2 separate regions of the Homo sapiens genome follow, and region 1 is linked to region 2. The links come from fine-mapping of genetic effects on gene expression. Tissue or cell type: whole blood. Region 2 holds a variant in brackets; the other region holds the start of a gene. All regions are shown on one strand. Distances are between the middles of the regions.

The links. PIP is the estimated chance that this variant, and not a neighbour inherited with it, causes the effect.
Region 1: SDSL starts here. The variant in region 2 is fine-mapped to the expression of SDSL in whole blood (TOPMed, PIP 0.96).

The regions. Positions count from the first base shown.
Region 1 is chr12:113,421,092-113,423,703 of GRCh38, forward strand. SDSL (serine dehydratase like) reads left to right here and starts at 1,289. Exons shown (of 8, transcript NM_001304993.2): 1 at 1,289-1,386.
Region 2 is chr12:113,389,120-113,391,879 of GRCh38, forward strand. PLBD2 (phospholipase B domain containing 2) reads left to right here. Exons shown (of 12, transcript NM_173542.4): 12 at 1-2,510. Among named protein-coding and RNA genes, the nearest start is that of SDS, 13 kb to the right of the region's middle. The variant A/G (reference allele first, on the strand shown) is at 1,317.

The DNA of each region.
Region 1 (2,612 bases), 32 kb after region 2:
CCCCACCTAAAGCCTTCTGTGGCTCCCTAGTGCCCCTGGGTAAGGTCCAAACTCTGGATTGGTACAGGCATCCCTGTGGACTCTGATCTCTGCCCACATCTCCAGCCTCAACCCCACTTGCTTCCCCACCCCTGCCTTCTCCCTCCCAGCCCCACTGGATACTACCCTGACCCTGGAATATATCATGTTTTTCATTTCCAGACCTTTGCACTCCCTGTGCCTGACTCCTGGCTCCACTCAGACTTCCCCTCCTCCAGGAAGCCTCCCCAGCCCCCCAGGGCCAGGCGGGGTGCCTGCTCTGGGTTCCACAGCCCTGCCCCACCCTGCCAGCTGCTAACATCTGATAGCACTAATAAGTGCTCTCTAATGGCCCTCTCTAAGGGCTTTGTGAAGGCAGAGGACATGCTATTTTGTTTGAGGCCAAAGTTCCAGGGATTGGCACATAGTAGGTGTCCAATAAACATTTAATGAATGAATGAATGGTCAGTCATTCATCTGAGTAGCAAATAATTGCTTGGGTTCTCATGCTGCGTGTAAAATATCCGAGACGGAGAGGTGCTTCAGACAAAAATATACCTTTCCCATGTCACAAATAATAATTATAATAATTGTTTCCTTGGCCAGGTGCAGTGGCTCACGCCTGTAATCCCAGCACTTTGGGAGGCAGAGGCAAGCAGATCACCTGAGGACAGGAGTTCGAGACTGGCCTGGCCAACATGGTCAAACCCTGTCCCTACTAAAAATACAAAAATTAGCTGGCGTGGTGGTGGGTGCCTGTAAACCTGGCTACTTGGGAGGCTGAAGTGGGAGAATCGCTTGAATCCAGGAGGCGGAGGTAACAGTGAGCCGAGATCGCACCATTGCACTCCAGCCTGGGGGACAAGAATGAAACTGTGTCTCAAAAAAAAAAAGTTCCCTTGTCCTTGTTTTCCCATCCCAGACCTAAGCTGACCCCAACAGTGGTTCAGCATCCGGGACAATCACTAGACCTAAAATGAGAAGACATGGAGATGCCTGCATCCCGGAAGAGATGGCCCAGGGCCAGGGGTAAAGGCTGTCTCTGCCCCTTGCTGTCTGGGAAGCTTTGGCCAAATAAGTTCCCTTTTCTGAGTTTCAGTTTGCTCATCTGTCAAATGAGACAGGGTGGTGCATGAGTCATAGGCAGTGCCCGGGAAAGCGGTGAGGGTTGCTCTCATCCCCTCTCCTCCTCCGTCTTCACCCGGAGGCTTAGGGTCTGGAGCTTTCTCTTTAACAAAGGAGGAGGGACCAAGGTTGCCGGAAGCTGCCTGAAGCTGGACAGAGCCGGTTCCTGGAAAGAGCTGGTTCCCTGGCAGGCTGGAGGGCAGGAGCTGGGGCCACGCTGGTCTGGGATAGTTGGGCAGGGAGGTAAGGGGTCTGGGGCCAGCTGGGGCCCCTGGGGCTCAGTGTGTGTGTGAATGAGAGGCTGATGAGAGGCTGCAGGAGTTTGGGAGGCTTTGGGCAAAGTCCAAGCTGAGCAGGTGGGAGTGAGAGGGCCTGAGCGTGTTCTAGGCCCTCCTGGGAATGTCGATTGAATTCAGGGTGCCCTGCAGAAGAAAGTGTTGTGCTGGGGACCCTGAAGGGCGAGAGTGGGTTCTGCCTGCCAGAGGGGCAGGGTTGGGCATTCTGCCAGCCAAGGGGCCAGCCCGAGGTGTCCCAGCCCTGGCACCAGGGATTTGGCTGTGGAGTGCCACCAAGGTGGCCTCTGGGGAAAGGCTTTGGGGACAAGTGAGGTGGACAGCACTGGTGGTCCTTACCTCAACTCATAGATGTGACAGGTAAGGCCCAGTGACAAAAGTGACTTGGCCAAGGTTGGCATGACTGGGACCTGAGCCTGAGCCCCCTGCTTTCCCCTGGGTTATTCCACAGCAGGGAGACCCAGGTCCCCCATTTCAGCCCTGGTGGCTGCCATACGGGACAAGAGGTGTGTGTCCCTGGGCCAAGACAGCTCAGTCCCAGACCTCAGGTGCCTGATGGGGTCTGGGGTTGATAAGGCTGTTGGCAACTTGGGGCTTTTTCATTTAACTGATGCCTGCTGTCCTCTTGTGAGTCAGTATAACCAAGAGGGCTGGGGAAGCCTGGAAACTGAGCCAGGAGCATTTGGTTCCAAAGGACAATTGGCAATAAATATTAAATGCATGCAGCTTTCATAATAGTAACGATAACACTAGTATATTAGAGAAAGTATAGCATCGCGGTTAATAGCACAGATGCCAAAGACACTGCCTGGTGTGAATTCTGGCTATGCTGTTTCTAACTGTGTGAACTTGGATAAGTTACTTAATCTCTCTGGACCTCAGGTTCACTGTTTATAAAATGGAGTCAATGGTGAGTTAATGACTCATCTGTTGTGAGCCAACAGGTGGCTCACACCTGTTATCCTAGTGTTTTGAGAGGCAGAGACAAGAGATTTACCTGAGGCCAGGAGTTCAAGACCAGCCTGGACAACTCAGCAAAACTGCATCTCTATAAAAATTAAAATATCAGCCGGATACAGTGGTGCATGTCTACAGTTCCAGCTACTCAGGAAGCTGAGGTGGGAGGATTGCTTGAGCCCGGGACTTCAAGGTTACAGTGAGCCATGATCGTGCCAC
Region 2 (2,760 bases):
TCCCTCAGGAAGCAGTCCCCTCGTCTCCCTTTCTGGGCAGCTTCCTTGAGGACAGAAACTTGAAAACAAACACAAACCAAAGTTTCTGGCCATCTGTGGCTGGAGGGTTCTGAATGTCCTCTCTCCATGTCAGGCAGAGGGTCAGCCCCCATGCTTCTGCCTCAGGCCCCACCCCACCCCACCCCAGGCCTGCCCCTCACCTCAGGGCCATACCCACAGCGCCCTGATGGAGGAACCAGACCGCAGGCTGTGCCACCATTAAACAAGAGCGGCTGTGGCCCCATGCTGTGCTTCTTGGGGTGGCAGGGAAGGTGGGGTCAGCGCTTTTTCTCCTCTCAGGTTTGGGTTCTGCGCCATCCCCCATGCAGCCTCCTGTGCAGCCCTCTGTCTGTCCTTCTGTCCATTCATTCATCTGCCAACATACTCACCCATCATCCATCTGCACAGCCTTCCACCCACCCATCCGTCTTCCATCATCCATCCATCCATCTACCTATCCATTTATCATCCATCCACTCACCCATCCAACCACCCATCCAACCATTCAGCCATCTCCATCTGTCCATTTTCTTTCTTCTTCTTTTTTTTTTGTTTTTGTTTTTTCTGAGTGGGAGTTTCACTCTATTGCCCAGGCTGGAGTGCAATGGCATAATCTCTGCTCACTGCAACCTCTGCTTCCTGGGTTCAAGCGATTCTCCTGCCTTAGCTTCCCAAGTAGCTGGGGTTACAGGCATGAGCCACCATGCCTGGCTAATTTTGTATTTTTAGTAGAGACAGGGTTTCACCATGTTGGCCAGGCTGGTCTCGAACTCCTGGCCTCAAGTGATCCGCCCGTCTTGGCCTCCCAAAGTGCTTGGATTACAGATGTGAGCCCCCGCACCTGGCCTCATTTGTCCATTTTCCATCCACTTACCCACCCACCCATTTACTCATCCAGCCATTGACTCATCCATCCACCTATGAGATCAGACAGGGAGGGATCCTTTTTTGTATTGGTCTGTATACCACAGCATGGCTTACGAAGTTCTTATCTATCTATCACCCATCCACCCACCCATTTATCTACCCACCCATTCATCCACCCACCCATCCAACTACCTATCCATTCATCCATCCACCCATCTGCCAACGCATCCATCCATCCACCCACCCAATCATCTACCCACTCACCTATCCACCCATCCACCTACCTATTTGTCACCCATCCACCCATCCATCCATCCAATCACCCATCCAACCATCAATCCAACCATTTTCATCTGTTCATTTTCCATCCATCTACCCGTCCACCCATTCACTCCTCCATCCACCTACCT[A/G]TCCATTTATCACCCATTTACCCATCCATCCATCCATCCTTCCAACCATTTATCCACCCATCCAAACATTTCCATCTGTTTTTCCATCCATCTACCCATCCACCCATTCACTCATCCATCCACCTTCCTATCCATTTATCATCCATCTACCCACTCACCCATCCATCCAACCTTCCAACCATTTATCCACCCATCCAACTATTTCCATCTGTTCATTTTCCACCCATTTACCCATCTACTAATTCACTCATCCATCCACCTACCTATCCATTTATCATCCATCTACCCACTCACCCATCCATCCATCCTTCCAACCATTTATCCACCCATCCAACCATTTCCATCTGTTCATTTCCATCCATCTACCCATCTACCCATTCACTCATCCGTCCACCTATCCATTTATCACCCATCTACCCATCCATCCACCCACTCATCCATCCATTCATCCATCCACCCACCCACCCGTCCATCCACCTACCTATTCATTTATCACCCATCCATCCACACACGGGTCTGTGCAGATTCATTAATATCCACCCATGCATCCATATTTATCTATTTTCTATCCATCAGCCATCCATTCATTCATATCCATCCATCCATCTATCCATCCAGATGTTTATTGAGCACCTGTGTTCTGGGTCCTATTTGGGAGCCTTGTTAACCACCAAGACCTTCCTAAGCCATATTGTGGTATACAGACAGATACAAAAAAAAAGGCTCTCTCCCTGTCTGATCTCATGCAGCCTGCCTTGGAGACAAGACTCTCCCAGTGCTGTGTGCTTGGAGAGAGGAAAGCACACAGCCCTGGAGTCAGAGACCTGGGTTTCAATTCTGTCTCCACCTCTTATTAGCTAGCTATGGACTCCTCTCTGAGCCTCGATTACCTCATCTGTGAAATGGGGTAATGGTGTGAGCAGCGTTTCCCTGGGGGATGTGATGCAGCCCACTTGGGGCCTCATGCACTCAGCATCTCTTTATTAGCAAACACTTATTGAACCCCTAGTACATGCCAGGCACTGTTATGAGGTCCCGGGGATACTTTATAACAAAAGGGACAGAAGCATTCCTGCTCTTGTGAAGTTTACATTGACTAGATAGTAAACAAAATAAATGAAATATGCAGTGTGTCAGTGCTGGTAAACCCGTGGAGAAAATAAAGCAAGGTTGGGGTCTGGGGTTGGGAATTGACTTGTGGTTTTATCTTATTTTCCTTTTTATTTATTTATTTATTTTTTGAGACGGAGTCTCACTCTGTCGCCAGACTGGAGTGTAATGGCACAATCCCGGCTCACTGCAACCTCTGCCTCCTGGGTTCAAGTTATTTTTCCTTTTTGTAGAGACAGAGTCTCACTGTGCCAACCAGCCTGGTCTTGAACTCCTGGGCTCAAGCGATCCTCCCACAGGCGTGAGCCACTGCGCCCAGCCCTGAGTGACTCTT